Regions from separate parts of the Homo sapiens genome. Here region 1 is linked to region 2. Evidence: fine-mapped expression QTL. A gene starts in region 2. The other region holds a variant in brackets. All regions are shown on one strand. Distances are between the middles of the regions.

Region 1 (4,521 bases), 29 kb after region 2:
AACCAGTTCAGGCATGGTGGCTAATGCCTGTAATCTCAGCACTTTGGGAGGCTCAGGCAGGTGAATTGCTTCAGCCCAGGAGTTCAAGACCAGCCTGGGCAACATAGTGGGATGCTGTCTCTATAAAAACTTAAAAAATTAGCCAGGCATAGTGGTGTGTGCCCGTAGTCCCAGCTACTTAGGAGGCTGAGGTGGGAGGATTGCTTGAGCCCGGGAGGTTGAGGCTGCAGTGAGCTGAGATCATACCACTGCACTCTAGCCTGGGTGACAGAGCGAGACCCTGTCTCAAAAAAATAAACGGTAGAAACCAAATTTTATTATCATCCCCCCAGTGTCTAATACAGTGCTTGGCACAAGTAGATACTATCAAATATTTGTTGAATCAGTGATTGAGTTAAGCTAGGAAATCTCTTCAGAGAATGTATATCTCCTTGGTTCTATACCGAGAAAATAGCAGCCCCTAACCTCCTGGCCTGTAGGAAGTCCTCTGCTCAGCCTTCCTTAGATGCCTGCCAGGGAGGGATCCACTGGGTTCAGGGTCATCTTTTTTTTAATCCTGTTGTCTTTTTTTTCTTTTCTTTCTTTTTTTTTTTTGAGACGGAGTCTTGCTCTGTCGCCTAGGCTGGAGTGCAGTGGTGCCATCTCGGCTCACTGCAACCTCTGCCTCCCGGGTTCAAGTGATTCTCCTGCTTCGGCCTCCCAAGTCGCTGGGATTACAGGCGCACATCACTATGCCCAGCTAATTTTTGTAATTTTAATAGAGACAGGGTTTCGCCATGTTGGCCAGGCTGGTCTTGAACTCCTGACCTTAAATGATCCACCCACCTTGGCCTCCCAAAGTGCTGGGATTACAGGCATGAACCACCGCGCCCAGCCTTGTTATCTTTTTTTTTTTTTTTTTTTTTTTTAACAGATGGTCATTTCAGCTCCTGGCTAAGGCCACAAAGCAAAGTGTCCTTTATTCACTGATTGTTGTTTGAGCAAGGGTGCCCTCCTCCCCCTTGCCAGGCTGCTGGGAGTGAGACAGATACAGCCTTGGCAGCAGTGTCTTGGAGTGATTGTGAATAAGGGATGTTTTCTCTCCTGTCTCTCTCCCAGTGTCTGGATGCCAGCCGCCCATGGCTCTGCTATTGGATCCTGCACAGCTTGGAACTGCTAGATGAACCCATCCCCCAGATAGTGGCTACAGAGTGAGTCTGTCTTTGGGAAATCTGGGGTGTTCTCTGAAATTGTATTTTGAGTTTGGGATTTTGTTTTGTTTCTGTTTTGTTTGTTTGGAATGGAAAAAAACAGTGCCACAAAGAAATCTTTGCTCTTCTCATGACCTCCGGCAACTTCCTGAAACTCCTCCACTTTAGAAAACTAATGTAAGCTGGTGGGTAGAACAAGACTTTGAACTTCCAAGAGAAGGATTCTGGTTTCTTCTGTGGCCTTTTCTTTTGGCTCTTGACTCTGGTCTTTGAGAAAAGTCTTAATCATCAACTCTGAGAGACAAGATTTTGCCAGAAAGTACAGTATGCATTTGAACAGCTTCTGTGGGGAAGCACGTGCCAGTCCAGTGAACAAAAATGCCTTTGCCTTTCCTACGCACCTCTATAGAAGTACCTCCCCGCTCCCGGTGCTTGGAGCGACCATGTAGCTCTTGATGGGACTGGATGTGTTACTGGTGTGGCATACAAATGCCATGACTCTCAGTTTTCCTAAACCTGATCGATGATTAGAGATCTAAGCAACTGAGCTTCTTCCCAAGATCCTTGTACAGATGGCATTCGTGATCTGGCATCTCATTCCCAGACACTCATCACCATTTATATATTAAAGAAGAAAAGACTGATCATGACTCCAGTCCTAGGGATACCTGGAATAAGAAAGGGCAGCCAGGAATTGGATCCAAGAGATCCACTGAGAGGCAGCATGGGCTCTAGGCAGCATCTCGAATTTCTCAGCTTCCTCTGGTGCTCTTGAGGTCGAAGCATCTGGGATGAGAGACTTCTGAGCCAGGTTTGTTTCTCCACAGCACAAGGAGGCAGCTGTGCTGGGACACACAGAGGCCTAGCCGGGGCCCCTCTCTGGTCACAGAGCCCCTGCCTCAGTCACATTGTCAGGTCAGAGGAACAGAACTGCACATTGTCTCATTCATTCTGTCTTAACAATAACCTCTCATTCTTGCCTTCCTGGGCAGGGTGTCTTGTGATGAATGTGGATGGGGAAGATAATAAAGAATTAGGCCATTAACC[C/T]TTGTGGTACGTAGGATGCTTTCTGAGGGAGAGGCAAGTGCATTGTTTTGATCATCGGGATGCCACTGCAAGCCTGGCTGCTTCCAGCACTGGAAGGAGAGTTGGACACAGTTTCTGCAGTAACAGGAATTTAATTGTCAAAGAAAGGCCCACGTGGTTTTTTTTTTTTTTTTTTTTGAGACAGAGTTTCACTCTGTCACCCAGGCTGGGGTGCAGTGGCACAGTCTCAGCTCACTGCTGCCTCTGCTTCCCGGGTTCAAGCGATTCTCCTGCCTCAGCCTCCTGAGTAGCTGGGATTACAGGCACCCACCACCGTGCCTGGCTAATTTTTGTATTTTTAGTAGAGGTAGGCTTTCACCATATTGACCAGGCTGGTCTTGAACTCCTGACCTCAGCTGATCTACCTGCCTCGGCCTCCCAAAGTGCTGGGATAACAGGTGTGAGCCACCACATCCAGCCTCGTGTGTTTTTGAAATACCAGCTCGGGGGCCTGGGGATTGTTTGGGAAGTTTTCCCTTCACTCCTACACAATCAGGATATTTGGAAAGTTTTCCCTTCACTCTTGCACAATGGGAAAGTTGGGTGTGAGAGAAGAAAGAAAAAATGGGGATTTCTGTGAGCCTGGATCTGAACGCTGGATGGAGGAGGCCGCAGACCCATGAAAAACTGGAAGAGAGAATCACAGGGGGTGCCTGAGGTGGAAGAACTCGAGCCAAAATCGACTGAGTTTTTTTCTAGGCTGTGTACTTGGTGTTTTATAGTGAAGGCTTTTCTGAGGAAGTGTCAGCGCCGCTTCTGGGGCAATGTCACATAGGAAGAGAGGAGCCTTTAAAGGGCCTTTCATTGGAAGCAATCTAAATTAAATATCAACAGTAGAGAATGTTTAAAAAAAATTTTTTTTAAATGTAAAGCTGGGTGTGGTGGCTCACGCCTGTAATCCCAAGCACTTTGGGAGGTTGAGGTGGGTGGATCACTTGAGGTCAGGAGTTTGAGACCAGCCTGGCCAACATGGTGAAACCCCATCTCTACTAAAATACAAAAATTAGCTGGGCATGGTGGTGCATGCCTGTCATCCCAGCTACTCGGGAGGCTGAGGCAGGAGAATCGCTTGAACCTAGGAGGCGGAGGTTGCAGTGAGTCGAGATTGCGCCTTTGCACTCCAGTCCGGGCAACAGAGTGACACTCCATCTCAAAAAAATAAATAAATAAAATACATAAATTTAAAAAATAAAACATAAGTCATTTATGGTGCAGTACATTCTGTGAAATACTATATAACCATTAAAAAATGTATAAATGTGGCCACGCATGATCACACCTGTAACCCCAGCACTTTGGGAGGCCACGGTCAGAGGACCACTGGGGCCCAGGAATTCAAGACCAGTCTGGGCGACATAGTGAGACTCCATTTCAAAAATAAAAATAAAAATAGCTGGGCGTGGTGGTGCACACTTCTAGTTCTAGCTGCTCAGGAGGCCGAGACAGGAGTTCAGGGGTTTGAGGCTGCAGTGAGCCATGATGGCACCACTGCATTCCAGCCTGGGCAACAGAGCAAGACCCTGTCTCAATAAATATATGAATGTGTATATTTGTATGTTAAAATATATGTATTTATATAGAGAGATGTGAAATGAAAATAGTTTAAAAGATTTAATTTACATACATTAAAAATATAGATGATGATATGCATAGATAGAACCAGAAAGATACATGTAGTAGTTATTTCTGGACGATGGGGTTAAAAGTGATTTTATAAACTTTCTGGGCTGGGCACGGTGTCTCACACCTGTAATCCCAGGGCTTGGGGAGGCCAAGGTCGGCAGATCACCTGAGATCAAGAGTTCGAGACCAGCCTGGCCAACATGGGGAAATCTTGTCTCTACTAAAAATATAAAAATTAGCCTGGCTTGGTGGTGTATGCCTGTAATCCCAGCTACTCGGGAGACTAAGGCAGGAGAATTGCTTGAATCTGGGAGGTGGACGTTGCGACGAGCCAAGATCATGCCACTCTACTCCAGCCTGGAGGACAGAGTGAGACTCTGTCTTAAAAAAAAAAAAAAAAAAAGGCCAGGCGCGGTGGCTCACACCTGTAATCCCAGCACTTTGGGAGAACGAAGTGGGTGGATCACCTGAGGTCGGGAGTTTGAGACCAGCCTGGCCAACATGGAGAAACCCCGTCTCTACTAAAAATACAAAATTAGCCAAGCGTGGTGGCGCATGCCTGTAATCCTACTCAGGAGGCTGTTTGTTTGTTTTTTGAGACAAGAGTCTCCTTCTGTTACTG
Region 2 (4,217 bases):
TGTACCCGGAATGTCTGTTATCATACCTTCTATAATCTCCTACATACAACTCCCCCAGTTTAATCTCTTGGTATTATAATTTTTGGTGTAGTACTTTTGATGCATGCCCTAAAATAAATTCTCTTCTATTGCTTGTCCAAAGGTAGCAGCGTTTTCCTAAAAATCACAACTTTAAACTTGGTTGTTCTGGAGGCAAGTGTGATGAGTAAGTCCACTCCATAAGAATCAATAAGAATTTCTTTTATTCTAGCTGGGCGTGGTGGTGAGCATCTGTAGTTCCAGATACTCAGGAGGCTGAGGCAGGAGGGTCACTTGAGCCTATGGTTTTTGTTTGTTTTTTTGTTTTGCTTTTTTTTTTTTTTTGAAACAGGGTCTCGCTCTGCCACCCAGGCTGGAGTGCAGTGGCACAATCATAGCTCACTGCAGCCTCGACTTCTTGGGCTCAAGAGATCCTCCCACCTTAGCCTGTCGAGCAGCTGGGACTACAGGCATGCGCCACCACGCCCGGCTAATTTTTTTGATATTTAATAGAGATGAGGTCTTGCTATGTTGCCCAGGATGTTCTAACTCCTCAAGTGATCCTCCTGCCTCAGCCTCCCAAAGTGCTGGGGTTACAGGCGTGAGCCACCGTGCCCAGCACATGTCTTCTAAAAGCTGCTGTTTCTTCCTTTTTCAGGAGTTCTTTCCCATACTGTTCTTCTGGATGACTCCTCGTCATCCTTCGGATCTCAAATGAAAGGTCATTTAGAGAGGCTTGGCCTGACCATACAATTCAATTAGTTTCTTACCCCTTTAGTCTCTCTCATAGACCCTGTTATTTTCCTTCATCTCATTTATCACAAGTCTTCATATATTTATTGCGTTGGATACATTCAATTCTGTCGATTTTCTTAGAATGTAAGGTTTCCAAGGGAAGGGACTTCGTTTTGTTCACTTTTGTATTCCTAGAACCTAGCACAATGCCTGACACATAGCAGGTGTTCCATAAATATCTGCGGACTGACTGTCTATTTCACTTATCCTTGTTCCTTGTACTGCATTTCAGTTCTCGCTACTGCAGTGTAACCTCCAAGAGACAGGAGAAAATCATAATACCCCCCTCCCTCCATCACTGAGTGATACTGAGACGGCGTCCTTGCACGTTTGAGCAGCTGCTGCCTTCTCCTGGGAGGCTGTCAAGTACCCCAAGGTGCACAATAATTCTTTTAGTAATTGCCTGACTGAGGCAAATCAGTAGAGCTGTCAGAAATGCTTTCAAACTTAACATTCATTGGGTTCTTGGGCACCTGAAATTGCAAACAATTGCATTACAATTAAGTGAGAATTAGCAGAATGTTACAGTTCTTTAACAATTTGCGTAACAAACCGAGGCGTCCTACGCCATCTCGCTGAAATGAAATTCGGATGTAGACACCCTTGCGCTTCAGGACTCTACGCTCTTGCAGCAGCTCCTCTGCCCAATGGGGGGCGGCAGCATCTCAGTAACTCACTCGAAAGACGGGTAGGCGGGAGGAGACATTCGCGTTCAAAATCTTTTTGCCTCTATCCGCTCGCCGTAGCGCTTTAGCCCGCTCGAGTTTCAATGCGCGTTGTTGCTTAACGAAGCAGAGTCCTACACACTGTCTGCTGCTCTCCTGATCATGGCTTCTCCGAGTTCTTTCACCTACTATTGCCCTCCATCTTCCTCCCCCGTCTGGTCAGAGCCGCTGTACAGTCTGAGGCCCGAGCACGCGCGAGAGCGGTTGCAGGACGACTCGGTGGAAACAGTCACGTCCATAGAACAGGTGAGGTGGCAGGACTGGGCGAGGCGCCCGCGCGATGTGTTCTGGGAGCGCGAGTCCCGTTCGTAGGGCCGCCCGGGTGCGGAACTCACCGGGGAACTACGACTCCCACAGCGCACCGCGGTGCCTTTCCTCTGGGAAGCTCCGGGCGCCCAGGCTTGGGCTTCGTCGTGGAGCGTTTGCGCGGCCAGCTTGGGGAAGGGTCGTTTCAAGGTTGGGCTTGGAGGAGAGGGCAGTAGCCGAGTCCCCTCTGCCCTAAAGAACGAGAAGAATCGTGTTCTATGCCTGGAGGACAGAGGCAGCCCGTGCGGGTCGGACAGCCCACTCTGTTCTGCCAGTACTTCGGGAGGTTCTGGGGTGCATAGTGCACTTTTCCCAACCTGCCCTCAGCTTCTGGAGGCAGAGAGCAGGGCCAGGCTGCTGTCATGCCGTTTCACGATCTGTTTAATTTTTGACCTACAGTGCCAGGTTTGGGGGCCCGCCTCGTGGGTGGGCATTTTGGTAGTCATTCAGCCATTTGAGCACCAGCTACGTGTCGGACACAATATTAAACGATGGAAGTACAAGGAAATAAAACAGCTCCTGACCAGGAGCCTGGTTGGGGGACAGGCAGGAAAACAGTTTGGAAAGTGATCTAATAGAAAGAATGGATTTTGGACTACTAATCATTCCCTAAGGCCTAGAAGTAGGATCGAACCTATCATTTTGAAAAGTGTTTGGCGAATGAGTATATATTCATATGCCCAAAACCATAGTTTTGTTTTTCTTCTTATTCCCTAATTGGAATTGTTCCCAAGGTTGCTATGTGGAACTGTTTATCCATCTGTCCCTAGGAGAAGTGGTTAGGATAATTCTTAACACTAATAAATGAACATTCTGCTGCTTACTGAAATAAGATCTCTTAGTGAGATCAGTCTCCAGGCTTTACCTTGGAGAGACCTGTTTTGTATTTCCTACTTTAAGTTGGAAGCCTGTACTTTGGCAAAATTAGTAACAATAATTGTTTTATTGTACAGTTATGACTAAATAGAATTATAAATTTATAACAGAAACAAGGGCTTGATACGTGGTTATTCACAAAGTAGCAGAGAAAATATTTTAACTGGAGATTTAAACTTCATGGAATTTAGGGTAGCAAAGGAAATCCTCACCTCTCGAATCTAGCTAATTCTCCAGGTTGGTTTGCCTACCAGTGTGTCCCAGGGAAGGCTGACTGCAAAAGATTGTAAAGAAATTTCCCATTGATGAAAAACCTACAGGATCTTTGCAGAATTCCTAAATGATGGATTGCTGAGTTGATTCAGGTCAAGTGTTTTACTTATTATCTGACCTTAGACTATGGGATTGCCTTTTTTTTTTTTTTTTTTTTTGAGATGGGGTCTCGCCCTGTTGCCAGGCTGGGATGCACTGGCTTACTGCACCCTCCGCCTCCCGGGTTCACGCCATTCGCCTGCCTCAGCCTCCAGAGTAGCTGAGACTACAGGCGCCCACCACCACGCCTGGCTAATTTTTGTATTTTAGTAGAGACAGGTTTCACCATGTGGCCAGGCTGGTTTTGAACTCCTGACCTCCAGTGATCTGCCCTCCTCGGCCTCCTAGAGTGCTGGGATTACAGTCGTGAGCCACTGCTCCTGGTGCGAGTATCTTTCAAATCTAGACCCAACGGTATGGCAGACAGTAAAGAATCTTATATTTCTTTTTCATGTTGTTATTCCAGCACACATTATTAGAGTCTAGGATGAACAGTTTCAGGTAGTAGGATGATAATGTTGTATCTCATTTTTGTGGCCTTCCTCACTGTTTTAATAATCATGTTAGTGACCATTTATTGAGTCTCAGCACAGTGCTAAATGCTCTCCATATGTGGTATCATTCAATCCTTTCACTTTTTATGGATGAGAAGACTGAGGTTTAGAGACCTACCACATTGGTAGGTTAATGATACATTCATCAAAAGTAACAACCTTGTTAGGAGGAGTTGTTTACAGAGGATATACTAGTACTCTTTCAGTTTTAACTAAAGCTTCCATTTACTGATAGCTCAATTTTGTGCCATTGCCAGTAAAAACAAATTGATGGCTGACACCTGTAATCCCAGCACTTTGGGAGTTCGAGGCGGGAAGATCACCTGAGCCCAAGAGACCAACTTGGGCAACATAGCAAGACCCTGTCTCTACCAAAAAAAAAAAAAAAAAAAAAAGTAGCTGAGCGTGGTGGCATGCACCTGTAGTCCCAGCTACTTGGGAAGCTGAGGTGGGTGAATTGTTTTTGAGCTCAGAAGTTCACAGATGAGCCATGATCGAGCCACGGTACTCTAGCCTGGGCAACAGAGTAAAACCCTGTCTCTTAAAACAAAAAACGACTATACTGATTTTGGTACTGGCCTGGGCAACATAGCAAGACCCTGTGTCTATTTAAGATGAAAGCTTTTCAAAT

Direction of the effects. Alleles are on the strand shown, and positions count from the first base shown. SD is a standard deviation of normalised expression in the study named.
For the expression in tibial nerve of the gene that starts at base 1,582 in region 2, allele T in region 1 goes with a higher level than allele C (moderate effect, 0.47 SD a copy in GTEx).

Evidence for each region. PIP is the estimated chance that this variant, and not a neighbour inherited with it, causes the effect.
Region 1: its variant is the best candidate, but not a certain one, in a credible set for the expression of FNTB in tibial nerve (GTEx, PIP 0.86).

Annotation. Positions count from the first base shown.
Region 1 is chr14:65,014,527-65,019,047 of GRCh38, forward strand. It overlaps CHURC1-FNTB (CHURC1-FNTB readthrough), which reads left to right. Exons shown (of 14, transcript NM_001202559.1): 6 at 1,099-1,190. It overlaps FNTB (farnesyltransferase, CAAX box, subunit beta), which reads left to right. Exons shown (of 12, transcript NM_002028.4): 4 at 1,099-1,190. It also overlaps a transcript of MAX not described here. Among named protein-coding and RNA genes, the nearest start is that of MIR4706, 28 kb to the right of the region's middle. The variant C/T (reference allele first, on the strand shown) is at 2,238.
Region 2 is chr14:64,985,314-64,989,530 of GRCh38, forward strand. It overlaps FNTB (farnesyltransferase, CAAX box, subunit beta), which reads left to right and starts at 1,582. Exons shown (of 12, transcript NM_002028.4): 1 at 1,582-1,784. The coding sequence starts at 1,641. The region is part of intron 3 of CHURC1-FNTB (CHURC1-FNTB readthrough); the gene reads left to right. LOC107984655 (a long non-coding RNA gene) reads right to left here and starts at 1,800. Exons shown (of 2, transcript XR_001750792.2): 1 at 1,367-1,800; 2 at 226-1,286.